Linked DNA regions of Homo sapiens. The protein of the gene in region 6 interacts with the protein of the main gene of each other region in a pairwise test. Each region holds a gene or a part of one and is shown on either strand. Other genes may lie near its edges. The genes, in order: ARK2N, SOX6, MNAT1, WDR13, HIPK1, ERG and LARS1.

Region 1 (3,755 bases), on a different chromosome or scaffold from region 6:
TCAGGAAATGCCAGCATTGGAATTTTGTGGCATTAGTTACTACCTTCTTTCTTATAATATGTTGTAGTTACTAGTGAATTCTTTTAAAAGCAATACCTAGAGTTAGAACACTATGTACTCTGCACAGGGGGAGTGAAGTAATATTGGCTTAGAAGACTTCACCTTTTGTTTTTCATGGTTTTTGTTTGTTTTGTTTTTGTTTTTGTTTCCATTGTTACCGTTGCTATGGCCCTTTGCCTGTCTCTCCAAATCCCCTGGTGGCTCTTCTTATCATTAAGAGTATGAGAATTACCATTTTCAGTTTTCATTCAGCAAACAAATTTACCAAGTGCCTGCTCTGCATAAGGCACTGTGAGGGGTGGGTGCTCTGGGGGCTGCTGAGATGAATGACACACACCGCACATACACATGCATCAGTGTCTGCCTGCCTCCACCTGCCCAGCCTGTTCTTCTTCTTCTTCTTCATCTTCTTCTTTTTTTTTTTTTTTTGTAAAGACAAGTTTATTCCTTTACGCTTCTTGTTGCATTAGTTCTCCTGTATGTTCCTTCTTCCACAGGAATGTATTTGTGCATATGTTCTTTGATCTTCTCTGATAGCATCTCATTTGATCTGGCCTCTGTCCTTCATCAGCTTTTATTTTTTTTATTTTTATTTTCTGCTTTTGTTAGATAAGGCTTTTAAGATCATGAACCTCCAGCTTTAGCAACTCATATATCAGTCTCTCACATGGCCACAATTCTAGACAAAAACCAAAGACCCAGAGGCCAGAGCAAAGTAGGACCTTCTGAAGATTCACTACTGGTGTATCCTTGGACCTTCACATTTTACTTTAGGATTAATTTATTGAATTTTACTGTTACACATAGTTTTTGACTTGAATTAAAATACTAGACAAAGCAGAAATGTACAATTTCTGGTCTGTGTTTTCCAGGAAATTCATAGAGAAGAGAATAGAGTGGATGATGTGACTTGAAGTTTTTGCAGCTTATTTTTTCCCCCACTGTCAGGGCAGAGGCCCATTTTAATGAATGTTTTTGCATGACCTGTTCTTATGTTAACCACATATTTTTTTTCCCAATTCCACACAGCAGGTGATTTCCCGTGTGACATATTTTCTTCATAGTCCCTAATATAGTCATCCTCTACAGAGTTGGCGTGCTGTGTGCACTGTGGATTAGGAACAGAGTGGAGCTGTAACCAGTCTCTTCTCTGGCCCTTTGCCTTTATGTCAGCTTGCACTTTTGCCTCACTTATTCCTAGTCCAGCTCCCAACTGCCTGACTTAATGGACCAGAACGGAGATTTGGATATTAAGATGCAGAGGGGGAGGGGAAGGGATGGTAGAGATAGACAGCTCTCCCCTACTAGGTTGGGTCATTTCCCCTAATAACTATAGAGAGACTGTGTTTCAACTCTCTTTTCATTGCTGTTTCCAGAAGAGTGGAGAGTGTGGTTTCAGGCAAGGTATTAATGATACAATTCCGTGGTATACAGCTCCTGTGACATTTGAAGTTTCTTTTAAAGGGGTTTTTCTTAATCAAAGTTTTACATTTGGTAGCATAAGTAGTTCTTTATGCTTCACAGGACATTGTCTTCAGAGTAATCTCTCTGCTAAAATGGTACATGTGGGTCACAGATTGGTTTATGCCACTGACTTGGTTAAGTTTCCACCCCCTCCAATTTGTGAAAAACAGAGCAGTGACCTAGCTGTTGCATCATCATGACTGCCATGTAACCTGTAATTGCTGCTCTCCAGTAATTGTCTTTTCATTTTGATGGTAGGGGCCAGACTGAATGAATAATGCATTCTTTTTTATTCAATTTATTTCATTCAGTTTATTCTTGGCAATCAAACATCCCATAAACTTTGCTTTTATTATCAATTATGAATATGAATTGTCTGGTTTACTAATGTAGTCATTTGTTCATCTTTACTTTTAGCAGATTAGCACCATAACTAACTTAAAACTAAGTTTGTTACCTGCTTTTTATACTGTCACAAAGGTTTTTGAAAAAGCTGGGGACACTATTTTGTCTTTTAGTTTTAAACTTTTTTAAGGCAAAGCAAGCTCCCCAATCCCTGTTCTCCAATATGTGTATGATGTGACTTCCATGTAGATATAAAAATGATTGTGCCCTAACCAAACTTCCTCAGATTGTGCACTGTTTGTTTAAAATAATCACGTATTTTAGTCTGATGCTGTTGTATTTTTTCATTTTATTTAAAACACTACTTACTTCTTATTCTCTTAACAAATTTTAAAAGGTAGTGATCTTAAAAAAAAATCACTGGATAACTAGGAAATATTTTTGTTGTTGTTTTGTTTCTTAAAGAGTACAGAGGCCATTGAAGCCTTTTGCTCCTCTTACCGTGAAAATGAAATGTTAGCCATTGTATGGCTAGGAACCAATGCACTTGGCAGTTAATGGATCTGCTGTTGCTGGAGTGTGAGCGTGGACTTGATGCAGTGATGACAAATCATTGCTTAGAATTAATGTTTTCAAATGTGCAACTCTAGTTTTTAAAACAAAATTTGGTTCTTTACATTCATTATTTCGTTTTTGTTTCCCTTTAGTATTTAATGGTCTTTGGAGAAAAAATAATAAAACAGAGTGTTATATATATATTTTTTGGTGCAAGATAAGATTTTCTGTTTTTTGAAATAAGTCTGTAGCATAAAGGTTAAACTATTTTAAGACAAAATAAAATAGAGTGTATTTAAACAATGATATCTTCTGAGGTTTTTTTTTTTTTTTCTTTGTCCCTATCTGCTTCAGTTAATTAGGTGGTACCTGGAGCAATTTCCAAGTTACCTTTTAAATGTGAAAGTGGATTCTATTTTGTTAACAAGTCTTATCTTTATAAGATGTCTGAGTTTTCAAAGCAAGAGCTGTATCCTTGCAAGGTTACTTGCAAAACTACTCCCAAGAAGTTTTGCAAGTAACCTTGGATAATTGTTGGATGTTGATAAAAATAGCTTTGCATTAGCTTTCCTGTAACCCCACCTGAGATTTCAAAGAGGGCCAAAGACTTATTGTTCTGGGCACCTTTACTCCTGGCAACAAAACTTCACTGCTGGTTATTACTTTGCAGAGATCAGAGAGTCAAGGTAAGATGCTGCAACGGCATGCACTTTGCATGTGGTTAAACATTGAAGCAGGTATAGGGTGTTTGAAAAATAGACTGAATAATTTTTTCCATAGTTTGGTTCTATTTTCAGATTTTTAATTTGGTTATTAAAATGATAGGAACTACCATATTAACACCTCATGATGTTTGTAACTTATCTTCACATAAAGGGGAATGAGGAACCAGGGAGAGTGAAACCTCTTTTTATTAAAACATTCAACTCCTGAATCTCTTAGTTTTCCTCAAGAATTTTTGGTTCTGCTTGTACTGGAAAATGATCTGTTAACAATTAGGAAACACAATATTAACTAGTAGGAAATATCTTCAGATTTTTGAAATTGTTCTTTTATACCACCCTGTATCTGAGACGTAGACATATTAATACCTATAAGAAATCTTTGGCTGGGTGCAGCGGCTCATACGCCTGTAATCCCAGCACTTTGGGAGGCCGAGGTGGGCGGATCATCTGAGGTCAGGAGTTCGACACCAGCCTGGCCAACATGGCGAAACCCCGCCTCTACTAAAAATACAAAAATTAGCTGGGTGTGGTGGCGTGTGCCTGTAATCCCAGCTACTCAGGAGGCTGAAGCAGGAGAATCGCTTAAACCCAGGAGGCAGAGGTTGC
Region 2 (4,025 bases), on a different chromosome or scaffold from region 6:
GGATGGCTACTGGCAGTATGTTTGGGAAGGAGATTAGGGAAAGAGGAGGTTGTGGCATACTGAAGGGGCTTGGCCATGAGAATCTTTGCTGTGTCATAGGGGCACTGCCTTGCACCATGGCTTTTGCTCAAATCAAGCCAAACCTGGAACAGTTCACTCCCAGCTGATCACCCCTGTCATTGTCTCCCAAGCCAATTTAAGATGCTCAGTGGCCACACACAGAGTTTCTGGTAGTTTATTTAAGCAGATACACAGGGAGGAAAAATAAAAACTAACCTTAAGAAATCCCCATAAGCTTTCCAGCTTCTCTGGGTGGTGCTTCTGACTCTAATCACAATAGTCTGCTTTTGTTGTGGGATCTACCACAAGATAATTGGCCTCGACATTGGTTAGAGGACCTCATTTTTGGCATAAGATCCAGAACTCCTGTTGCAGTAAATTATTCTGTGGTGGGAGCAGTAACAATGTGTATTTTCTTGCTTAAATCAGAAACTAGACATGCTTTTGATATCTTCAAGTCTGATTTCATGTCATTTTGTTTAAAAATTAGGTAATAGATTTCTGGTATAAATTTCAACTTGGCTGACTGGCTGTCTGCATTCAAAAGAGGCCCCTCATAACCACAGTAGTCAGGATAAGTGGGGATGCAGATGACTGTAGATTCCAGCATACCCAGACCTAGAAGCACAGCAGGGTGGCAAATCCAGAGGGCCATTTGAGGCACAGACCTGAAGCAGCTGGACTCAGAGTAGGGAAACACTTGGGAAAGAGCTTGAGAGAGAGAAGCAGAGTAAGCAAGAGGGAAGTTGCATTTGCTGTGAAGTTGGAGGAGAATTGAGGAGCTGTGCTGTGCCAGGAAACTAAGAGAGCTTCACTTGAAGGTAGAAAAAGAGGTACCTTAAAGGAGAAGCCAAGAGCTATTCACTTTTAAGGGCACTCAAGAGGTAACCCTGTGGAACAAAAAGTTGTTTTCAGAGCATGTGTTTAAAAGGAATAGTAAATAGAGTAAGAAAACAAAGCCAATGAACGTAGTCTGGGTCATGAATCTGTGCAATACACTGCAGTGTTTTCGGGAGGAGCGTGGGCTTTGGAGTTTGACTTCTGGGGTTCACATACTGACTGTGCCACCTACCTGGGCAAGTTATTAAACTTCTCTAACTTTTGTTTTCTCATGTGTAAAATGAAATGAATAGTGGAAACTATCTTGTATGATTGTTGAGAAGATCCAATGAGGCAACGCTTTTAAAAGTACTTTATATAGTGCTTAATACGATATCAATAAAGGTGAACTCTAGCATTATCATTACTATTTAATATGTATTTCCTATCACAGAAAACCATATTTTATATCACACCAGATGATCAGTGAATTTCTTTATACCATGGCAGAACCTTTTAGAGGTAGAGAGAAGCTTAAGCCACTTTATTATAAAAGATCCCAGTATGTTAATAAATGAAGACATGACAAAATAGGATTATCAAATTCCTCTGTATTATAAATGTTTGCATTTTTAAAGGTAATGCGTTTAACGCTAAAAAGGGCAATGTGGTATAATTGGGCTATTCAGCTGATAATTAGAGGATTTATGAAAAATACTAATTCATAGTCCACTTTAAGATTATGTGATAAACATTCTCTTTTAATCCCGTTAGTACACCTCTAAGATTGTGTATAATCTCTTTTGAACAATCCAAAGTTTAAGTTTGGGACCTCTTGTGATTCCTGCCCTCCCTCAGTCATGTTCCCTGTGTATGTAGTGATACATAGTGGGGCTGTTCCGCCAGTCTGGAAGGCTACTAAAGGTGCTGTTTTAATACCTTGGTGTAATACTTATTTGAAAATATGAGTTGCAGTAATACTATTGAATTTAGTTCCCTTTACTAAAGGGTACATTAAAACAGCTCTAGATCAAAATACCACAACATGTACCAATGCATGTAAAAATAAAAAACTAAAACAATTTAATAACATCTATTATTTATTGACTATCTAGTGTATACTAGGATTTTAGATATATAAGTCACATAATTCTCTAAATAAGATAAAGAAGTTGAGTTTTAGAGAGTTTCTATGGCTACAGAAAGGTGATAAAGAGCAAAGGTTCAAATTCAGGTATTGGCCCCCATCATGCCAAATGACTGAGGAACTGTCTTTACTACTTTGTCTCAAAATATGCCTCATAGCCCTATGCTGGCAGTCATGAGTGTGGCTATGCCATCTGAGCAAGAGCTCTTAGCACTTGGAGAAAATGAAGTCTCTGCTTGTGGTATATGGTACATAAAAAGAACTTTGAAATTTAGAGACTAAGTATCCTGTTCTCAATAGTGTAGAACAGTCCTTTATGGAAGGATCATTTTAGACTGCAGAATAGGGCTACTGAAGTGCAGGCAATGATCAGAATGTCTTATTCTTTCATCTCAATGCTGAGCATTTTCCTCTGCCCAGCTTTGATAATACTTGCTATGTAGAGCCAGGTGTTATTTCTGCTTAAGGATTTGTATTCTCTTTTAAGTAGTTGTAGTTGATAGATTATTAATTTCCTGAAGTTTTTCTTTGGAAATTGATCTTTATTACATATGAGGTTATTACAAGAGTTGAGCAAAAAACAAACAAAAATTCAAATATTTCTATTGACGTTTTGATGGAATGGGTTCAGATCAATTTTTATAGCTGATTTTGAAAAGACATGCATAACTTTCAAGCCAATAAAAGTGCATATACTGCTCAACATTTTCATGCATTTTACTGACTACACAACTGTGGCTGATGAGTTAGTTTTTTTTATTACTTAGCTATTATGAAATGAATTTATCAATAATATGGAAGGGAGCAATGTTAGCCCTTGCCTTGGTTTTAACCTCTTCAGTTCGCAGAGTAAGTATCAGAATGTTGTAATAATCTGGATAAGATTATTATCTGGATTATTCAAGATAATAAATGTGTGTGTGTATGTGTGGGTATAACACACTATTATATGCTAATCTATTCATGTATGTATCTGGCTTTGTATATTTGTTTGTATGTATCTGGCTTCTCCAACTACAGAATTCTCTGAAACTCATGTGTACAGAAATAATGCCTCATTTACTATACTAATTTAATAAAGTGTTGGACACATAGCTGGTTTCAAATAGGCCCTTACCAATTCTGAGTGTGGTGTCCAGAATATTCCCTCTACTATTAATGTAGAGGGAATATTCATTAGGGTACATGTAGCTACAATGACGTCTTCCCAAAGAACTGTGACCGAATATACTTCCATTTATTTGAAACTTATTTGGTAATTTACCTATGAACTCATAGAGAATTATGCAGGTACATTCAGCCCTCTGTATCTGTGTGGATTCAACCAATTGTGGATCAAAAATATTTTTTAAAAAAATTCGAGAAAATGTTACATTATTGCTAAAGTACACTATGTAGTTAGGTCTACAGTGGTTGCATCTGTATGGAACATCTACAGACTTTTTTTTTCTTGCGTTTATTTCCTAAACAATTCAGCATAACAAGTGTTTACATAACATTTATATTGTATTAGCTATTATAAATAATGAGATTGTTTAAAGTATATAGGGGATGTGTGTAGGTTATATGCAAATACTATACCACTTTATAAAAGGGACTTGAGCATCCTCAGATTTTGTTATCTGTGGGGGTCCTGGAACCAATCCCCCATGATACAGATGTAAAACTACTATAAAATATTAAATTTGGGGCTACTTTTTTAGCAATGATAAAGATAGATTATTGAATACTTACTGTGTGCTGTGTACTCTGCTGAGTGGATTATACAGATTATTGCAAATACAACAAATTTACAAGATAGGGAATATCATTCTCACTATTAAATTGAAAAATGCAATATTCAGAGATGTTAAATAATTTGTGTAGGGCCACACAGCTAGTAAATGGCCGAGCTGAGATGTAAACCAGGCTTATGTGAATGTGAAACATATGTCCCTTTTACCAAAGGACATTGGTAAGGACACGACATTACACACACAGAGGCGGTATAGCATTGTGG
Region 3 (4,025 bases), on a different chromosome or scaffold from region 6:
GTCTTATTATCAGGGCTACTTCAATACCTGGCAAATAGTAGGCTCTCAGTAATTTTTTTTTTGAGAATGAATGAGCTGCATGTATCTAAATTTCTGCATTTTTGTCCCCTCACTCTTGGAGATAAATTACTCATCCTGCCTTTATAAAGATATGATGAAAATTCTGGCACATAGCTGTTACTAACATGGAATTTCTAGTAAAAAATTACATTAGACAAACCAGAATCAGGCACTAGGTTTTTTAAGGAATATTACCAAAGAAATTCAGAAGCTAGTACATTTATTTTTATAATATCTACTGAATTTCCAAGAAGTGACACTTGTTCCTCATTGGGATACACAAAATCTAGGCTCATATTACTTGCTATTTTTAGATTTTTTAATGAAACTTTGCCTTACTCTGTCTCTTCCAGTCATTATTCTGAATAAATTAATAGAAATGAGTATCATAATGTTTTAAGAATCAAAAAATAAAAACAATATTTATGCCATTTTTCTGTGTAATGTCATCTAAGCATATAATGGCAATACTGAAATTAGACAAACATTGTATTAATCTCTTGTGGAAATAAACATCTGACTTGGAAGAATATACTTAAAATTTATCAAATATCTTTTGGCCTATTAGCTACTGTTTATTATCTGTTTTTCATGGCTCTATCTATCTCATAGCCCATGTTCCTGAGATGTTCCTGTGTTTAAATGTATGTAGTATATAGACAGAATCTATCCTTAGAGGTCTATCCTTTGAGATAATCAGCACTACCAACAACATTGTTCATAGAATATATTATACTTAAGTAGCTATATCTTCTGTGTGTTCTATAGTTCACACTTAAATCAAGGAAGTAATCCTTTCATTATGTAATTATATTAACTGTCAGTAATAACTGTTCTATCCAAAATACCTGGTGTGCTCTTTGATAGCAATAAATTACACAGTTATAGTATAACTGGACTTATACTCCAGTTATAAGGCAGAAAGTCTTCTCCGAGCAATCTATATTCAGTTATTAAATATGAGTAATAATAAAGCATTGTGTTCATTTGGAAACCATGTGTCTTTTAATTTCCAAATATGAGTTTTGGTGTTTGATTGGTCTAAATGTCTGGCATAACTATTCACTCTCTTTCCAAGTGTATTGATGTAAATCTGAATTCAGTTTTATTATTAGTTTATTCAAATTGTATTCTCACTAGCTGGCTAGATGGTAAAGTGTAAGAGTAACATATGACTGCCTGTGGAAGTTTGTTACATTTTTGTTTGGACTTCATGAAGCCATATGTTTTTTGTTTTTTGTTTTTTTTAAGATGGAGTCTCGCTCTGTCGCCCAGGCTGGAGTGCAGTGGCGTGATCTTGGCTCGCTGCGACCTCCACCTCCCGGGTTCAAGCGATTCTCCTGCCTCAGCCTCCTGAGTAGCTGGGATTACAGGTGCGTGCCACCACGCCCGGCTAATTTTTGTATTTTTAGTAGATTCGGGTTTTCACCATGTTGGTCAGGCTGGTCTGGAACTCCTGACCTCGTGATCTGCCCACCTCGCCCTCCCAAAGTGCTGGGATTACAGGCATGAGCCACCACACCCAGCCGGCCATGTATTTTTATAACCAAGCTGCCCTCAGAATTATGAATAGTATTTCTGACATGTAGTGTCTTTTCTCATTTATCTTAGAATATATGGTTACCACTCTATAAACAGTTTGTCTATTATTCTGGTACTGTGCTTAGTTTAAGACACCTAACCATTAACTAGTTTTCAGAATGGTTTTGCTTTTTAGTGATAGTTGTGTGAGCGCACTGTTGCTCTGGTTGTTTTTAAATCTCACTGAGGTAGGCTTCAGGTTGTTAATGTAAATCTTTATAGCTTTGGCTGAACTTCCTACAAGAGCTGTGGGTCTTGATAGCTGAGATCAGCTGGCTGATCTCTCTTAATGGCAGTTAGATTTGAATTTTGTGGGCTAGGACACAGATCTGTTTGGAAATGGTCTGTTTAATGCATGATGGCTTTAAATGAAGACTAAAAAAACGGGCCACCTTGTAAAAAGAAAGTCTTAGTCTCTAGAGTTCACTACCTTTCTTAGTTTGAACCAATCCAAGTTTTTAACTCTCCATAGGGCCCGGTAATTTGAGGTGGAGGAAACTAATATGAACTTTACATTTCATTTCAATATTAATTCCAAGCCAGTGTGCTTTAAGGATTGTCACAAACATATTATGACTGGACAGGAAGAGTGCTTGCCTCTTGGTCTTGAGTGACAAGCCCTGCCCTCTGCCCCTAGCTGAGAACTCAAAGCATTGTTAAGTAGCACTAAAACGAGCTGAGTCCAAGACTTCAGCCAGATGGTCAATATAGTGCTTTTAAAGGAAGGGAAATAGGAAAAGAGTAATCTCAGAAGCACTCCTATGTTAAAGAACTAAGAAACTGAAGTCTTTCTGAAGCTAAGTGTAAATTATTCCACTTTCTTTGGGAGCAAAAGCTGCAAAATATAACACAAGAAAATGACAGTGTAGGAAACCAAAGTTCAGGAACAAACCTTCAAGTGTGGTTTTCTAATGCTTAATCGTATCTTACGCCCTTCTCAGGATCCATTGCTCCTTTTCCCTCCCTCTTCTCCAAGGTCTGTTTGAAAGGGATTTTGATGGGATAGGAAGGCAGCTTTAGACAGAGCATAAATTAGGGCATAAGATGTCCTTTGTACAAGAATTATCTTAGACATGCTTTCAAAAACATACTTTTTTTGACCTTATTAAGAAAATAATCAAAGGTATGATTTTTTAAGTCTTTGAGTTTAGTCTGCTTTCAGTAAAAATAAGGTATAGGTACCAAAATAAGCAAACCTCGTTTTTACTTTCCTGGTTTCTGCTTATACGATTTACACATATTTAAAATAAACCCATGAAAAACAGGAATAGTGTCATGGGATTGGCTAAATAGTCAGAGCAATTACCTCCAGGCTCCCAAACCCAACTGAGCTTGACTTTTGGAAGTAAATTTGGCTAAGACTTCTTCCTCATTCTGTTTTATAAAGGTATACATGAAATGATACTGACTTCTGCCAGAAACCCCAGGAATCCTGTTCAGTGATGTACTTGTAATGGTCATGAAAGAATAAAAACACAGATGTGGATTAAGGTAGAAAAGTACAGAAAACACTAAATTTTCATTGTGCTGTTTCAATGTGGCAGATTCTTTAAAATACTTCGACATGCTACAATAATTAAAGGTTTTAAGAACATTAAGATACTTAAAAAATAAAAGCCCACAATTGAATAACAAAAATGAACTTTGTTTTATTTTTTATTGGCATTAATGTAGGTTGCCGTGGTGAAAATAGTTTGAAATACTTCACAGTAACAGTTTTGTGCAGCCCTAGAGATCAAAAACAGCAAAGTAAATAAGCAGGACTCTCAACGACTCATACTCACAGACATGTTTAATGTAAATGATTGCTAGAAGGGAAGGGCATTTTCTTCAGTGCTATGCAAAGAAATTTTAATTGACTTGGTTTTGGCAGTGAGAATTGTACAACTTAGCATTAATAAGTCAAATTTAAAAATTTGCTCATTACTCTGGATTATGACTATGTTCAAGAAATACTATTTTCAAGCACTAATCATTTAGATAAAACTTTTTTTACACATTTATGGCATCAAGGAGTATGACTGTTTATAACATTTTACCTATAAAGCTGAACTGTTTTATATACTCTTTATGGAAACATGGCCATAAATTAAAAGATGCAACTGTTTTGAATATTTTACTGGTGGTCCTCTGTTTTCCTGCCAGCAGTGCAGCTGTTTCAGGTTTCTCAGGATAACATATAAAAAGCTGTATGCACACTGCAAGTTTATGCTCAAATTGCCAAGCCAGATATGGTATGACTCAACTTTCCCAGAAGCAAGCTGTACCAAAATGTGATGAATCAAAACAGTTAGTTGCACAGTGGTTTGTATTACAGCTATGAAAACCAATTCTCATTTATGATGTTTGGCTTTTCAAGGTTGACAAACATTCTACTGTGGTGC
Region 4 (4,809 bases), on a different chromosome or scaffold from region 6:
CCTGTAATCCTAGCACTTAGGGAGGCCGAGGCGGGCGAATCACTTGAGCTCAGGAGTTTGAGACCAGCCTGGCCAACATGGTGAAACCCCGTCTCTACCAAAAATAGAAAAATTATCCGGGCGTGGTGGCAAATGTCTGTGGTCCCAGCTCCCGGGAGGCTGAGGTAGGAGGACTGCTTGAGCCCAGGTGGCAGAGATTGCAGTGAGCCAAGATCGTGTCACTGCACTCCAGCCTGGGTGACAGAGTGAAACCCCATCTCAAAAAAAAAAAAAAGATTAAATAGATTAATATATGTATAAAATACCTTGAACAGTACCCAGCACATTGTCTCATAAATATTAGTTGTTCTTGTTAAGGTTACATGTTTGTGCAGTGAAATAGAGTTTACTCTTTATCAATCATGTTACAAAAGAGTATTTAATATGAAAAGACACTGATAAGCTTGTTACAGGGACAAGGGAGATGCTGAGTCAACACAATACAGTGTGATCTTTCGGTGACTTTAAAACATTGTTGAATTGATTGTATTTGTTATAAAAATAATGTGGAAAATAACAGCTTTGAATTTTATGTCAGTTGATGTTAAGATCCAACAGGAAGTTTACCCTGATAACGTTAAGATGAACAGTTTGAAAGCAGCTTCCTGCTGGAAGTTGAAATAGAGATGATTCAGATAGCCTCTTTGGATCCAAACCCCAAAGCTTCTTTTGCCTAATTCTATCTTCTGTCTTTAGAAACTCAAGCCTCGACTGGGCTCGGTGGCTCACGCCTGTAATCCCAGCACTTTGGGAGGCCGAGGCGGGCGGATCATGAGGTCAGGAGATTGAGACCATCTTGGTTAACACGGTGAAACCCCCTCTCTACTAAAAACACAAAAATTTAGCCAGGCGTGGTGTCGGACGCCTGTAGTCCCAGCTACTTGGGAGGCTGAGGCAGGAGAATGGCGTGAACCCAGGAGGCGGAGCTTGCAATGAGCCGAGATCGCGCCACTGGACTCCAGCCTGGGCGACAGAGCGAGACTCCCGTCTCAAAAAGAAAAAAAAAAAAAAAAAAGAAAGAAACTCAAGCCTCAAGCTGTCTGGGGGCATCCAAGTCCAACCATCCCAGTCACACACACACAACCGACCTTACTCATCCCAGGGGTGTGCAGAGGCCCACTGCAAGAACTGGTGAACTTTCAAGGCGTCTTTGCATATATGATGATTTTTTATTCTATTATTCAAGTTTTGCTTGGACAAGATTGTGCTGCTAAAAAGTGGCCTACACCACTTTTTTTGTTTTTGTTTTTGAGACAGGGTTTCACTCCCGTCGCCCAGGCTAGAGTGCAGTGGCGCGATCTCAGCTCACTACAACCTCCGCGTCCTGGGCTCAAGCAATCCTCCTGCCACAACCTCCCGAGTAGCTGGGACTACAAGCGCCCGCCACCATACCCGGCTAATTTTTGTATTTTTAGTAGAGACGGGGTTTCACCATGTTGGCCAGGCTGGTCTTGAACTCCTGGCCTCAAGTGATCCACCTGCCTCGGCCTCCCTAAGTGCTGGGATTACAGGCGTGAGCCACCGCGCCCGGCCCTACACCACTTTTTAAAAGTCGTGTTTCTTCTCTTTTTTATAATGTTGTACTTCTGATTTCTAGGGAATGATTAGCAAACTCACCCCTGACGCTATGTCCCTTGGACATTATCCTTGTATACACAAAAAGTGCAATTAACGAGTGGGTAGAAGTCAAGGGGTGGAGCCTCCGTCCTTGGGCTTGAAGCCAATGTCCCTCAATGCGCCTGCGAGACTCCCACGCCCTGGGAAGGATGCCTATCGATTCGCTCTGGGCTCGGCAGTTCTTTCTGATAGCAGGCAGCCATCTTGCCTGGAGCCTGAGAAAGGGAGGAGAGACAGAAGGAACCGGCGACAGTGGTCTCAGGGCCGCTCCGGGGGGCCTCAAGAACCGGAGGCAGCCCCGGAGGTGGTCCCCGATCCCGGGCTATGCTCTTGGATCTGAGAAGGGAAGGCGGAGGGCGGCGGGGACAAGATGGGTGGAGAATGTCAAGCAAGGAATGCTAGGCGGGGGAGGGGCGTTGCTATGGCGACTGGGGAGGGGCGGTGTCTGTTCTGAATCGCTGTGTGTCACCCGGGCGCTGCCCAGGAAGGGCAGGGCTGGGGTGATGACCATGGTAACACCCGGGGGGGAGTTCGTGACATCTCCGGCGCGGAGGGACTCGATGTCTATGGCAATGGTCGCCTGGTGGAAGGGACGGAACTAGATCCCTTCGCTCGGGACGCTCACATTCCAGGCCCTTGTCCTGCAGGCTGCCGCGGGCGGACACGCCAGAGGAGGAGGCCGGGGAATGGCCGCGGTGTGGCAGCAAGTCTTAGCAGTGGACGCGAGGTGAGGCGTGGGGTCAAAGCCCATGGGAGCAGAACTTACTGTGGTGCATGCGCAATGGCGATAAGTGAGGCTGGGCGGAGAACTTGCCTTATGCGGCTGCGTGGGCATGCCGGAGGTGAGCATGCGCAGTAGCGGGGGCGGGCACGCCCGCGGTGAGTTGGCTGCGCCGGAGAGGATTCTAAACAGCAAGCTGGGAAAATGTGGTCAGATGTGGGCATGCGCAAAGCGGCTACCTGTGAGAGGGAGGTGGGGCTCAGGCAGGTGACATCCTATCCCCTATGGGTGTCCCCTAGACTTTTTTTTTTTTACATCATCACTTCCCCATTCTGACCCCATCACCTCCCAACGCTGACCCCCATAATGTCAGTCTGATTTCTGTCGCCCTGGTATACTGACCCTAATTATTGTCTGCGCTGACCCAGTCACCCCGTAGGGACCCCAGCACGGCAGCAGACTGACTCTGTTGTCTGCAAACTGACCTCATGACCATGCTCATTATTACTGCAGACTCACTCCCACCACAGGACCAAGAGGTCCCTCATCACCACTGCTAGTCATTCTTACCACCTAGGCCCCAGTCACTGCCACACACCTCACTCTCCTGCCGTACCCCCCCCCCCGAGCTGATTGATTCCCTCTGTCCTGTGCCTGCTGCCTGCCCTGCATCCTGACCCTGCAGGTACAACGCGTACCGCACACCAACGTTTCCACAGTTTCGGACGCAGTATATCCGCCGGCGCAGCCAGCTGCTGCGGGAGAATGCCAAGGCTGGGCACCCCCCAGCGCTGCGTCGGCAGTACCTGAGGCTTCGGGGGCAGCTGCTGGGCCAGCGCTACGGGCCCCTCTCCGAGCCAGGCAGTGCTCGTGCCTATAGCAACAGCATCGTCCGCAGTAGCCGCACTACTCTTGACCGCATGGAGGTGAGCTTCTGGCCACATTCACCCCCGGGCATACCCTGCCTGCACACATTCACTCCACTGACTTTCATCAAGCACCTGCTCTTTGCTGGGCACTGTTCTGCATCAGCAGAGGACAAAAAGATAATATGCCAAGTAAACCAGTAAACACACAAACTTTGTAAACAGGTCAGTAAACATATAGCAAGCCCTGTCTTTAGTATCTGCTGAGCAGGGGGAGGGCAGGAACAGCAGAACTCGTGAGGAAGCCACTGCAGTAGTACAAGTGGGCAGCGGTGGTGGTGGCAGGGGACACAGTGAGAAGTGATCTGACTCTAGGTAGATTTTCAGGGCTCCACACCTCAAAGGTTCTCGGGCTTTTTGCAAGATGCACCCACCCTGACCCTCTCCATTTGCAGGACTTTGAGGATGATCCTCGGGCCCTGGGGGCCCGTGGGCACCGTCGTTCTGTCAGCAGAGGCTCCTACCAGCTGCAGGCGCAGATGAACCGTGCCGTCTATGAGGACAGGTATGCACCAGAGGCAGCCAAGGCGGGGGGCGGGTTGCGAGGAGGAGAGGGGCCCTGGGGCAATGGCAGACTGAACACTCTCGCATCTACCTCCTGTCACCCCTCACTTCCTATTGGGGCCCAGGCCCCCTGGCAGCGTGGTGCCCACGTCAGCAGCAGAGGCAAGTCGGGCCATGGCCGGGGACACGTCACTGAGCGAGAACTATGCCTTTGCGGGCATGTATCATGTTTTTGACCAGCACGTGGATGAGGCAGGTGAGCCAGTGGGTAGCGGGTTCCATCACCAAGCGTTTGCCCAAACTGTGACAACCAACCAAGGCATCCTTTTCTGAATCCAAGGCCCCTGGCACACTCCAAAGGAGGAATGACCATCCATAAAGCCTTTTGTAGACTGAAAATCCCTCTGCAAAGTGGTCAGTGCTTCGTCTACTGGAAAGGGCCTCAGAAGCCTAAGAGAGAGCCCTTTGCAGCAGGCTGCCTGGGTTCCTGAGTCACTTGGAAGAGTTCAAAGCCTTTGCTGATGATAAATCCCCTTGCAGAGGGCAGAGTGGGCTACAGTGTCAAGGGTTTTGCAAATTGCCAAGACCTTGATTATAAAGTGTTCGCTAAGACAGGAACTTTTTCATGTTGCAGAAGACTTTTGCAATCTGCAAAGGAGCTGCTAAGACTTAGGGAGCTTTGGCAGAGGGTCTTCAGGGGTTACAGTTCCCTTTGTCAGCCAAGGAAAGCCCTTTGCTGAGGCCACTGTTCCTCATGCAGTGGGGCCCCAGCCCCAGGCACACACGTCAGAGCCTTTTAGAGAGAAAAGTGCCCAGTGAGTGTGCAGATTCCCACTAATGGCTTCTTGGCATTGCAGTCCCAAGGGTGCGCTTCGCCAATGATGACCGACACCGCCTGGCCTGCTGCTCACTCGACGGCAGCATCTCCCTGTGCCAGCTGGTGCCTGCCCCACCCACAGTGCTTCGCGTGCTACGGGGCCACACCCGTGGTGTCTCCGACTT
Region 5 (4,025 bases), on a different chromosome or scaffold from region 6:
TCAGTAGCCTGGCATCAGGAAGCTCTCTCTCTTGTCTGCAATGGGACAACTGTCTACTTCTGAAAAGAATCACACAGAGGCATAACACAATACCCTCAAATTACAACCCTGTTTATGTCTATGGCAGTAAGATAATACATAATAAAACATAATTTATACAAGTATGGCCCAGGTTTATGTTGACACCTAAACTTCACCAACCCCTTCCTTGGTATGAAGTTGTCACTGAAAAGCAGCTGCCTTAACAAGACTACATTGCCTGGGCTCACTTGCATCTAGGTGGGGCCATGTGAGAAGCATTCACTATTTCCACTTATTTCCAGCCTAAAGAGGTTAAGACATGTGTGTGCCTCCTTCACACTTTCTTTCTCCTTCTGACTGGATGCTCAGGAATCAAACACTTGTACCAAGAAATTATATGAGAGAGAAGTAAAATTCTACTATGTTATGCTACAAAAATCTAGGATTTGTTACTGCAACTGCTATTACCCAACTAACACAATAACTAAACCAGGGAGCTTAAGTCCAGTATCTAACAGGGCAAAGATGATGGAAGTAATTGGGTTGGTAATAAAACCATCAAAAGCATCACTGCTATGACACTGGGTGAGAAAAAAATCTAAAGAATATAACTGTTTTCCAAAACACTTTTGCAGTCATTTTCAATATTATCAAGTCCTGTCTACATCTCAATTGCCAAATTCAAATCATCTGTGGCAAACCTAATTGCCTGCTAATTCTTCTTGCAATATCACACGTCTTGTCTGCTTTCTCCCATCAGCACTGAATGTGTTTCTGAGACTACAATCTCATTTGTATATTAATCCAAGCAAAATAAACACAGGAAGATAAAGTGATGGCCAAAAATAATTTCACATTGTGCAGGGAACTGATTTCTGAATTAAGGTCTCTTTAAGAATGTCTACACCACTGGTCTCTACCACTGATATAAGTGGATTATGGCAAAATATTTAAGCATTCACACATCAAAGGAGAATTCAACTCAAGCTGTGAAGATAACACTGACCTGAGGCCTGGGTTGCTACAGTGCAGTCACCAAGCTGAGTTTTCAGTGGAGGCACAATGATAGTGCGGGTGCCAGTGCCATCTGCCACAACTCTGCCAGGCCCCTCCAAAACGGATCCACTATTGCCTCGGAGAGCACTCAGGGTATCAGTGGAATAAGGGCTGCTCAAAGAAGAGTCAGAGTCTGGAGAATCATTGACAGTGACATAACTGATGACATTAGACCTTGGCTTCAGTCCAGAGCTGAGGAAAAGAAAAATACATGAAAATTGAATTGTTCTTTTTTGTGTGTGTGACAGCGTCTTGTTCTGTCACCCAGGCTGGAGTGCAGTGGAGTGATCACAGCTCGCTGCGACCTCAACCTCCTGGGCTCAAGCTATCCTCCCATCTTAGCCTCCCGAGTAGCTGGGACTACAGGTGTGTACCACCATGCCCAACTGTTTTTATCTTTTGTAGTGATGAGATGTCACTATGTTTCGCAGGCTGGTCTCAAATTCCTGGGCTCAAGTGATCTTCCTGCTTTGGCCTCCCAAAGTGCTAGGATTGCAGGCATGAGCCACCATGCCGAGCTTCAACCACCCTTTTAAGCAATGTTTCTTAGATGATCTGTCTCTGGTTCTCCCATGATAACAATGATGATAAAGATGGTAATAATAATAGTAATATTAGCAGCAGTAAACTTCTGGGTACTTATGTATCAGGCACTACTCTCATGCTCCACATACATCTCACTGAATCCTTACAACAATCCTATGAAGTAGGTACTATAAACCCCATTTTGCAGATGAGGAAACTAAGGAATAGGGAGATGAGGAACTTGCCCAGGGTCACACAAGAAGTGATGAGTGGTGAAGACAGGATTCAGACCCAGGACAGAATGACTTCAGAGTCCACACCTCTAACACCTCCTGTATGTTGCCTCTACCATCTTACAATTGGTCCTTTTGAACTAACAGGCTCTAAATTCATTCTAAATTTTCTCTTCCAAGTTCACTTAAACTTCATTTCTGCATGACTCTGTAAAGTCTCCTAAGTTACTTTCATGTGTGAATCCTACCTTCTCAGGTAAAAGCAAGAGGTCATTCCCTCTTCCGTATGCCCAACACCAAAAGCCCCATCGAAGGCTATGCTTCCAAAACACCTTTTTCTTCGGCCCTTTTTTTTGGGTGGGGGCGGGAGGGGATGCAGTCTTGCTCTGTCACTCAGGCTGGAGTACAGTGGCACGATCTCAGCTCACTGTAACCTCCGCCTCCTGGGTTCAAGTGATTCTCCTGCCTCAGCCTCCCGAGTAGCTGGGATACAAACATGTGCCACCACGCCCTGCTAATTTTTGTATTTTTAGTAGAGACAGGGTTGTGCCATGTTGGCCAGGCTGGTCTTGAACTCCTCACCTCAGGTGATCTGCTGGCCTCAACCTCCCAAAGTGCTGGGATTACAGGCGTGAGCCACCATGCCCCACCGGTCCTTTCTTTCACAGGCCAAACTGGGCCCACTTGCCTGAGGCCAACAGTCTAAAACCAATAGAGCCAGGAACCATTCACTTATCTTACCTACTGGGCTTGTATTTGTTGTCCTCTTCCTCATCAGTGTCACTTCGGATAGTGATGACACTCACAGGAGGGCTGGGAGTATCTGGAATGATGATGGGCTGATGCTGATCTTGGACAGGGACCAAGGAATTATAAGAAGATGTGGTGCGGAGGGGACTGCTCCCAACCAGAGAATAGACTTGGGAAGGCAGAACATCTAGAGAGGACCTGTAGGAAAAGTTCACATGGAAAGATGATTCAGTCCTTGGCCTTCCAAATTGTGTATCTTTTCCCCAGACTGCTTTCCAATTTACTCATTGATTCCTTTTTACATAATCATTAAGCAAATACATTTAACTATATAAGTTCCAGTGAAAATAAGCACCATGCTGGCAAGAGTTTCCAGGGACAAGAACACCAAAATACAAAAGACATTTTACTTTTATAAGCCCTTTATCCCAGGATTAAATTTCACTCTGTAAAGTAAAATAAAAACATCATAAAATGCCCTAGATTCAAAGTGGCAGCAGAGACAAAGGACCATCATAAAACCAGGACACACCTGGTGTACATGCCCAGATGAAATGATTTGCTCTTCCTCAATTTGGCAGCTACTTGCTGCTTCATATCTATATTATATGTCTATACAATATTCCAAATGCAAGGCAACATATCTCTCAAACTGGCACAGTTTTAACTATCAGCTGTAACACAGACTCACTTGGAAGAGACTGGAGCTGACTGCTTATTCTTCTTCGAAGGGAGGGAACTGGATTGTTGTTGTCTGACAACATGGGCAACACCAACATTCAGAGGCTGAGCAGTGGCCAATGTCACATGGTTAGTCAGCAAGGATGGCTGCTGCATGATAGTGCTGTACTGGTTGCCATGAGAGTGGGCATTCCTGTACCAACAGAAAGAAAGAGAAGAGTGAATTCCAAAACCACTGAAGAATCAGGACCAAACAGACATCAAAAGCAATTAGCCAAAATGCAGCTGCATTTTATTTTTTTAAAGTTGAGCACCTACCATCTGATAAGGGATTAATAACCAGAATACGTAAGCAGCTCAAACAACTCTATGGAAAAAAATCTAATAATACGATCAAAAAATGGGCAAAAGAATTGAATAGACATTTTCCAAAAGATGACTTACAAATGACAAACAGGCATATGAAAAGGTGCTCAACATCTCTGATCATTAGAGAAATGCAGATCAAAACTGCAATGAGATATTATCTCACCCCAGTTAAAATGGCTTATATCCAAAAGACAAGCAATAATAAACACTGCCAAGGATATGGAAAAAAGGGAACAATTGTACACTGTTGGTAGGAATGTAAGTTAGTACAACTATTATGGAGAACAGTTTGGAGGTTCCTGTAAAAACTAAAAATTGAGCTACCATATGATCCAGCAATCCCACTGCTGGGTATATACCCAAAAGAAAGGAAATCAGTATATCAAAGAG
Region 6 (4,025 bases):
ATTTTTTCTTAGGGTAATTACCAAAATAAAACATATTTGGAGGTAAAAAACAGTGGCAAGCAGCATTGTCCACCTACAGAGAACCCTGTGGGTGAAAGGGAGCGGCTGTGGCTTTTAAGAAGACAGAGGCACTCCTTTAATTTTACAGAGGAAAGTAATCTCCTAATATTGTTAAAAGAAAGGGAGAGAAACAGGGTAGCAAAGGGGTACAGACTGAGCAAAAAAGGGGGAAAAAAAAACTAAACGGTTTACAAACCACAGAGCAAAGCAGAGAGCTGCAGAGTGAGTCAGCAGCTGTGTCTGGTGGAAACAGCATCCTGGTGCAAAGCCCTGCAGCCGTCAGCTGATGAACAAGGGCAGTAAATACAGCCGTGAGGGGCCCCACCAGTACCATGTGGCAGTGGTTTGGGGCCACTTTCTCTAGAAGCCAGGGGTGGTGCAGAAGATCCCGTGTGCATGGCCTGGACCCTCTGCAAGGCAGCAGGTGTGTCCAGCAGGTGTGTCCTGAATGGAAGTCTCTGCCCCGAGGCTCAGTGAGGCTCAGGCACCACTTACTGGAGGGGCAGGAAAGCATGGTGGTAGGGAGCACCAACTTTGGAGTTGCCACTGCTTCAGCTGAATCCTGCCTCTGCCCTTTGTGGGACGTTTGGCAACTCTCGCAGCTCTCTCTGCCTCAGTATCGTCATCTGTAAAGTGGGGGTGATGGTAATAGTACTATCTTGCAAGATCATGGTAAGGATGAACTCAGTACTTGAATGGTCTTGTCAGAATTTCTTTGGGCTGAAAATCAGAGTTTAAGGAAAGATAACACTCCTCTCCTATAGCCAGGAAATGCCTAAAGAAAGAGAAATACTGTTCAATTGGCCTATTGAACCATGAAGAAGCTTGAAACGGTGCTATTCTTGGGCTGACTGATATCCTCTGAAAGCTTACTGTGTGCCATGCACCATTCTAAACGCTTTACATGTATTGGTTTATTTAATCCCCACAGGAATCATGTGATTAGTCCATTGGAGAAGTGACGAAATTGGAGCTTAGAGAGGTAGACTGACTTATTTTGCTTAGCGTTGGCAAGGGTTGAAATCCAGACTCTAGGCTGCCATGCTTAATCACTGCGCAAACTTGCTTTCAGGCCTGGTTTATGCACACCTCTGTAGCCTCCTCAGGTCCTTTCCATGTTGTCCCCTCCCTGGGGGACTCCCACTGGAAGACTGCACACTGCCACCTCCTAACAAATGGGAAAACATCCCTAGCCTGGTCTGTCGTTCTGCAAGAGGCAGGATGTATTTTCATGTGCACCATTGAAGAGTATCCAGTTAGCATCAAGGAAGCCTCTGAACATAACCCACCAAAGCTCTTTCATTAGAGGAACCATGTTAGATAGATTCTCAGCTGCTCTGATGGGATGTAAAGGAGCTGTGTTGCTTATAACCGATCCATGATATCAGAATGCAGGGACACACTGTTCTCAGCAGGAAAAGTGATGTCCAAAGTACACATCAAGTGAATATTTGGGATAGAGATGTTGGGATGCTGACATCATCCTGTGCATTCATACTATATGATGCAATCTTTCCACTTAAAATGATGAAAAGGAATTTGTATTGTATGAAGAGCAAAGACAGCAATTTTTAAGTGATGAAAGATTTATTTATCAGAGAATAGAAAAATAGAATCAAACAGGAAGAAGCATTGTCATTAATACAAAGATAAAAGACATTCTGGTTTCAGGGGAAAAGTTCACATGAGCACAACAGACACAAACCTAAAGATAGATGGAGAGAAAGTCAAATTCATCAGAAACTAAATGAAATAAATCTTTATCTTAAAGTCACTTGCCTGCAAATCAAAGATGGGATGTTGCCATTTTCTCCAGGCCCATTAAGAACAGTCTTAATGGTATGAAGCACAGTCCTCCTTCCCCAGGCCTGTGATGAGTTTCCGGTCTCCTTGCTCTGAGCTCAGGTCCCTCTATCTACAAAGGGCATCCCCGGGCTGCTGGGCCCAGGGCATATGCAGTGTTCCCTTGTGAAAGCTGGCACTTTGCTTAGGAGCAAGTGACTCAGGCCCTATTCTACAAACAAGCCAAGCAGTACCTTTGGGCTGTGACAACGTGGTCATGGACATATATGTTTCATTTGGCCAATGTGTGAGTGCAAAGGCCAGTTTGGTCTTCTTTGGTGCAGCTTGACTCTTTCCTCCTCTTCCTTCCTGACCTCAGATTCATCGCCTGCACCTAAGCAGTTATGACCCTGAAAGGAAATCCTTGCTTTCTATTCTCACAGTCCGCATTTTGTAAGACCTCCTCTTCCCTTCATACTTAGTCAGTGGCAGAGTAGGGCAAGAAAACAAAAGTAGACTTTGCAGACAGAGTCAGGTTTCTAACCTGACCTCCCTTATCATTGGCTGTGTGACACAGGAAAAGTTACTTAACTTCTCTGGACTTCTAATTCCTTTTCTGTAGGATGGAGATAGTAACCTCCCAGGGCTGTTATGAGACACAGAAGGGACCACAGACATTCTATGGGGGGCATTCTGCGGGATGGGAGCTGTTTGATTGTTATTTCACATGATTGTATTAACATTCCCAGAGTGTTTCAGCTTCCGTCATTTTCTTTTTTCTAATCTATCCTGAACATTGCTGCCAGATCAGTCTTCCTGAAGCATGACTGATAATAATCATCTCAAAACATAGTCATTATTTTTATTTGAATGGTTATATGGCAGAGTTGCAAATGAAAAGCTGAGCAGAAGGCTGAGAAGAGACCACAGCCTCAGGAGCCTGGGCTACTAGATGAAAGCCAGCATGAGCAAAAAGGGCCTGTGGCTCTGTGTTTGGGACAATGTTGTAACTACCTGTGTCCATCTCTCCACGGACCAAAAGCACCCTGAGCTAAAGGACTATATCTCATTATCCTTGGCATTCATGTATGCAACAAATAATTATTGAGCACCTAGTCTAGGCCCCAGGCTAACTAGTTTTCTTTAGATTTTCAGCTGTGTAAAAAAAATTCATTGAATTCATTAACATTAACCAAAATTTAACTTCAAAAATACAGATGTTCAATAATGATAACATTTCGTGTTTTCAATGTGTAGATTCTCTTGCAGGGATGTACACTGATTAAATCTTAATTATTCCATTTCGAACCTTATTTTGGCCTCAACGTTTAGGAAATACACATTCCATCTTGTGCTTGCAATATGCCTGTAACATCTTGGCATTTGAATTTGCAGTTGGGAATATGCAGCATAGGCTATGAATTTCTGAAGCTGGTGCCAGCACAGCTGGTTCTGATCTGAATACAAACAAATAAAACTATGTGGTTGGCACTGAAACACTAGGACAGGTGACAAACCTTGGCAATGCACTGGTTACAAATGGGCTAATTAAGAATCTGCACTTTCTTCTAGCATCGAAGTTCAGAAACAGACCATCGAAGATGAGCCTGAATTTGAAGTCTTGTGGTTGTATCAAGGCTCTCTTTTAAAAAATACTAGTTATTTTATCTGCTTGTATAATGGGTTGAATTGTGTTCCCTCAATTCCCTATGTTGAAATCTTAACCCGCAGTATCTAAGAATGTGACCTTTTTTGGAGATAAGATCCTAAATGAGGTAATCAAGTTATAGTAAGGTTATGGGGTAGGTATTCCAACCTGACCAATGTCCTTATGCAAAAGAGGCATTTGGACACAGAGACTGACACACACAGAGAGATGATGATGAGAAGAGACACGAGGAGATGATGGCTATCTGTAAGCCAGGGAGAGCCCCCAGGACAGATCCCTCCCTCACAGCCCTGAGAAGGAACGAAACCTGCCACCATGACACTCTGATTTCAGACTTCCAGCCTCCAGAACTGCGAGACAATAAACTGTTGTTGTTTAAGCCACCTAATCCGTGGTACTTTGTTACAGCAGCCCTAGAAAACTATTACAGCTTGGATTAGGTTATAATGTTCTTTGCTGAAGCTGAAATCTTAATTTATAACCCAACCCATCTTTCCATTAAGGCAAATAATTC
Region 7 (4,642 bases), on a different chromosome or scaffold from region 6:
AATAAATTTGAATCACTCACAACCCATGCCATATGTGAACTAACAACTTGGAAGTGAAAGCCTTCATTTCTCGTTATCAGTCCCTAGGGACTTAGAATCACTCTCATCTTTTCTCTAAGAGCCTTAAATCTTATGTAGTTGCAGGCTTAAATTTCAACAGTTTCAATGATAAGAGAAGTCTGGGATAAAAGACAGTTAAACCAGTAAGAAAGCTCTACGAATCTATGGACAGTAATGAACTACATGGTGAAACATCAAAGCAAATATGTTTTGTCACTTAGAAGCCTGATTGAGTATTAAGGTTTCTTTGAACTAGTTTGATTCAGAATTGCTTGGAATGATGAGGGAGGTCTGTTTTAGACAGAGAGAAAGAGTGTGTGTGTATGAGAGAGAAAGAGGCAGAGGCAGATCCGCAGTAAAAGGCCTTATGCATAAAATCTGCTGGCAGAACTTGTCACTGCATCTATAGCAAAATATTTGGTACCACTGATGTGTACGTTGAATTGCAATAGCTGTTAAAATTAATTGTATTCTTCCCCAAAATAAGATCGTGGCTGTCATGAAGATTGCGCCTGCTCTCTTCCCATTTTAATTTTCAGGGCTCGTACTGTGTCTGGGAATAGATTGTATGGTCCCTGCAGAAACTCTCCAAAGACTCTTAGACAGGGTTTGCTTTTGTGGTAGTCGCAGGTAATTGTTCTATAAGCCCCTTCTCTAAACTTCGGTCTTTGTTTCCCGAAGAGGACAGAATGCATGGATAACTTGTATTCTTGGTTGGCATGGCCGCCAGCTGCATTAAAGTCTTCTTTTATCTCTTATCCCTCTTATACTAAGCTTTGTACTCTCAAGTCAACATGAGGGAGGGTAGCTCAGGTGTGTTTCAGAAAGAAATGGGAAGTAATTCAGAAAATATCTTCTATTTCTATGGATCAGGTTAAGGATAACTAGCCATGCTACACTTCGAATGAGATATAAACCCAGAATCAGCATTTGTAGTCATTTCTGGTGTTTTTCTGCCATATAAAATAAAACCATTTGATGTTGGGAAGTCTCAGAATTGCTGAAATAAATATACTTCTTTTGGGCTCAGTTGTTGGCAGGATTGTTGACTTACAAAGTTGTTCAAGAGACAGGTGCTTTTTTTTTTTTTTTTTTTTTTTTTTTTGGTCAGGCGCTATTTTTTCAGCTTGCATAAGAGCAGATTAGGAAAATCTCAAGCAGGGTGGGTATTAGACCTCATCCTACAGCTAAAAATTCTGAAAGCTTAAATTTCTGTCCTTTCTCTGCCTTGTCCCCGCTCTCCTTGTCTCATCAACTTGTTAATACAAATACTTTCATCTTTTGAGCAAATGAGAAACTGGTAATGCCATTTCTTAGAGTAGTCATTATTTATCCAAAAGTATCTCTGAGAAAAGCTACAATTCTTGCAAGTTTAGTGTATTCCAGGGAGCTCAAGAAAGGGGTAAGTTTTAGATTTTTCGATATTCTGTACAATGGTTAATTGAAGCATATAAAAATGATTTGAGAGACCATATAGGATAATGCTAAAAAATACACACAATTCTTTCTCTCTCTTAGTTTGTAATTCCAGGAGATGTCAGAATCTCTGACACTTTGAGCTGGGTAAAAGCTGAAAGGGGATGAAGATTTGCTACATTTTAGCTTTGCTCCTGGGATTGTTTTTTTTTTTTTTTTTTTTTCCCCCCGACAGAATCTTGCTCTGTTGCCAGGCTGGAGTGCAGTGGCGCGATCTTGGCTCACCGCAACCTCTGTCTCCTGGGTTCAAGCAATTCCACTGCCTCAGCCTCCCTACTAGCTGGGACTACAGGCATGCACCACCATGCCCGGCTAATTTTTTGTATTTTAGTAGAGATGGGGTTTCACCATGTTGGTCAGGATGGTCTCGATCTCCGGACCTCGCGATCTGCCCACCTCAGCCTCCCAAAGTGCTGGGATTAAAGGCATGAGCCACCATGCCCGGCCACTGCTTTTTTTGTTTGTTTGTTTGTTTGAGATAGAGTCTCACTTTGTTGCCCAGGCTGGCATGCAATGGTGCGATCTTGGCACACTGCAACCTCTGCCTTCCAGGTTCAAGCGATTTTCCTGTGTCAGCCTCCCAAGTAGCTGGGATCACAGGCGCCCATCACCAGGCCCAGCTAATTTTTTTGTGTTTTTAGTAGAGATGGTGTTTTGCCATGTTGGTCAGGCTAGTCTCGAACTCCTGTCCTCAAGTGATTCACCCGCCTCAGCCTTCCAAAGTGCTGGGATTACAGGTGTGAGCCACCGCACCCAGCGTGGCTTTTATTTAATAATCTGAAGAAAATATTTTTGTTTAGATATAACAACCAGCGTATTTAAAACGTGAGTTCTCAGACTGCTCCAGGGTTTGAGTGACTGTAATTAAATGCTTATATTGATAATTTATTTTGTTGTAGACCTTTCCAAAGTGAAACTGATGAGATTTGATGATCCACTGTTGGGGCCTCGACGAGTTCCTGTCCTGGGAAAGGAGTACACCGAGAAGACCCCCATTTCTGAGCATGCTGTTTTCAATGTGGACCTCATGAGCAAGAAAATTCATCTGACTGAGAATGGGATAAGGGTGGATATTGGCGATACAATAATCTATCTGGTTCATTAAACTCATGCACATTGGAGATTTATCCTGGTTTCTTAGGAATACTACTACTCTGATTGTGTCTACTGATTGGCTATCAGAACCTTAGGCTGGACCTAAATAGATTGATTTCATTTCTAACCATCCAATTCTGCATGTATTCATAATTCTATCAAGTCATCTTTGATTCCTGGACCTAATAAATTTTTTTTCCCTTTCTTTGGGTGTCCAAGAGAAATGGTTTTTGCCAAACTCTTTTTAAAAAACAAATTGTTGCTATTTCCTAGAAGTTTCTGGTTTTTAAGATGAACATAAAAGTGTCAGTATGCTTCTTTTATGAGGTGTACTTTATACTTTGATGAAGGCTAAGGTGTACCTAACAGCTTTTTATAGTATATTCATTTATGGAGTTAGCTGTATTTTTTTTTAAAAAAGAAAAGTAGTAAATTAGCAGCTTTTTTTTTTAAATGAAGAGAACTTCATGATGATTTAAAAGAACTAATGAGAATATTTTGACTTGACTTCAATTACTAAGTATTTTGTATAAAGAACAAATAGGTCCTGCATTTTATAAGACTTTTTAAAGCTTTAATTATTCAACTAAGAACCAATAATGGCTTCTTCAAGGCTAATATCAATAGTTTATAAGCAGTATATTTCACCTACACTAAATATGGGCATTTTAAAAGAAGATTCCCCCCTTCCCCCCCAGAAATCTGCATTTACTAAATTTGTCTTAAGTCCAATTGTGTTTAAAGGTCATGCTGGTCGGGTGTGGTGGCTCACACCTATAATCCCAGCACTTTGGGAGGCCAAGGTGGGCAGTCACCTGAGGTCAGGAGTTTGAGACCAGCCTGACCAACATGGTGAAACCCCGTCTCTACTAAAAATACAAAAATTAGCTTGGCATGGTGGCGGGTACCTGTAATCCCAGCTGCTTGGGAGTGTGAGGCAGGAGAATCGCTTGAACCTGGGAGACCGAGGTTGCAGTGAGCTGAAACCGTGCCATTGCACTCCAGCTTAGGCAACAAGAGTGAAACTCTGTCTCAATCAATCCATCAATCAATCAATAAAATAGAGGTCATGCTGACTATTACAGATTTATTCTTTTATTCTTGTTGGAGTGTCTTTTAATATCTGCGCCATCTGTCTTCATATGAGGAAAAAATGTAAGGCATTGACTAACAGGAGAAACATTTCTAATTTTGATGGGTTTAATATGGAGAAAGAACAATTTTGATAACCCAGAGGAACCTGAATTCTAACTGCGGTTATGTAAATAGAGTTTATTGAGCTTCCTTATTTTGCTCTCCGCAGTTAGGGACCACTAGGCCTAGTCATATGGTTTATCACAGATTTATTGAAGCCAATCATAGGATGTTAGAATTAGAAATCATCAAGTGCAAATAATCACTTATCTACTAGGGACAGGCACTATAGCATAGTGGGGTAAGAGCGCATGCTCTGAAATCAGACTAGCTAGGTTAGATTTCCAGTTCTTCTTTTTGCTACTAGGATGCTCTTGGCCAATTACTCGGAGCTGCAGTTCTTCATCTATAAAATGGAACTAATACTGGTACCTTGTAGGCTTATTGTGAGACGTTTAGGTGAACTGATCTAGGAAAATCATAACACAGTGCCTGGCAAGTAGTAAGTCTTTAGTGAATGTTACCATTGAAGAAGAAGAAGATGATGGATACCAAGGTATATTGGCTTCAGATTACTGTAGTCTGTAATCATGTCCTTTGTGTTGGTTCCTTTGGGGCAACTGATTCTTTCTTTGCACTCCTCTAGATTCTTTTGCTGTCCTCTCTGATCTGCAAAGCCTTAATTATTTCTGAAATTAAGTAATACTTTCTGTTGCCTAAACACAAACCTACTTGTGTTTAACTTAGGAAAATTAAACTATGTGTGCTTGGCCAGAAAAAAAAAAAGAGAGAGAAAGGAAAATAATATTGTGATTGTGTTCATCTTATGAACCTGTACTGTTTTGGATTAGGTGTGAGTTGAGATTCATGGATCCTT

The links.
Region 1: the proteins of ERG (region 6) and ARK2N interact in a two-hybrid assay, tested with the Homo sapiens proteins (one large-scale study listed by BioGRID and IntAct).
Region 2: the proteins of ERG (region 6) and SOX6 interact in a two-hybrid assay, tested with the Homo sapiens proteins (one large-scale study listed by BioGRID and IntAct).
Region 3: the proteins of ERG (region 6) and MNAT1 interact in a two-hybrid assay, tested with the Homo sapiens proteins (one large-scale study listed by BioGRID and IntAct).
Region 4: the proteins of ERG (region 6) and WDR13 interact in a two-hybrid assay, tested with the Homo sapiens proteins (one large-scale study listed by BioGRID and IntAct).
Region 5: the proteins of ERG (region 6) and HIPK1 interact in a two-hybrid assay, tested with the Homo sapiens proteins (one large-scale study listed by BioGRID and IntAct).
Region 7: the proteins of ERG (region 6) and LARS1 interact in a two-hybrid assay, tested with the Homo sapiens proteins (one large-scale study listed by BioGRID and IntAct).

What each region holds. Positions count from the first base shown.
Region 1 is NC_000018.10:46,264,263-46,268,017, forward strand, and holds the end of ARK2N (protein ARK2N), read left to right. Parts: 3' UTR 1-2,730; downstream 2,731-3,755. UniProt on the Homo sapiens protein: AMPK substrate important for exercise capacity and skeletal muscle function.
Region 2 is NC_000011.10:15,982,124-15,986,148, reverse strand, and holds part of SOX6 (transcription factor SOX-6), read left to right. Parts: intron 1-4,025. UniProt on the Homo sapiens protein: Transcription factor that plays a key role in several developmental processes, including neurogenesis, chondrocytes differentiation and cartilage formation.
Region 3 is NC_000014.9:60,961,692-60,965,716, forward strand, and holds part of MNAT1 (CDK-activating kinase assembly factor MAT1), read left to right. Parts: intron 1-4,025.
Region 4 is NC_000023.11:48,595,655-48,600,463, forward strand, and holds the start of WDR13 (WD repeat-containing protein 13), read left to right. Parts: upstream 1-1,837; 5' UTR 1,838-1,960; exon of another isoform or gene 1,961-2,303; 5' UTR 2,304-2,342; coding exon 2,343-2,383; exon of another isoform or gene 2,384-3,062; coding exon 3,063-3,303; intron 3,304-3,698; coding exon 3,699-3,808; intron 3,809-3,932; coding exon 3,933-4,063; intron 4,064-4,664; coding exon 4,665-4,809.
Region 5 is NC_000001.11:113,967,200-113,971,224, reverse strand, and holds part of HIPK1 (homeodomain-interacting protein kinase 1), read right to left. Parts: intron 3,460-4,025; coding exon 3,277-3,459; intron 2,784-3,276; coding exon 2,577-2,783; intron 1,270-2,576; coding exon 1,028-1,269; intron 1-1,027.
Region 6 is NC_000021.9:38,386,847-38,390,871, forward strand, and holds part of ERG (transcriptional regulator ERG), read right to left. Parts: intron 1-4,025. UniProt on the Homo sapiens protein: Transcriptional regulator. May participate in transcriptional regulation through the recruitment of SETDB1 histone methyltransferase and subsequent modification of local chromatin structure.
Region 7 is NC_000005.10:146,112,105-146,116,746, reverse strand, and holds the end of LARS1 (leucine--tRNA ligase, cytoplasmic), read left to right. Parts: intron 1-2,435; coding exon 2,436-2,641; 3' UTR 2,642-3,713; downstream 3,714-4,642. UniProt on the Homo sapiens protein: Aminoacyl-tRNA synthetase that catalyzes the specific attachment of leucine to its cognate tRNA (tRNA(Leu)).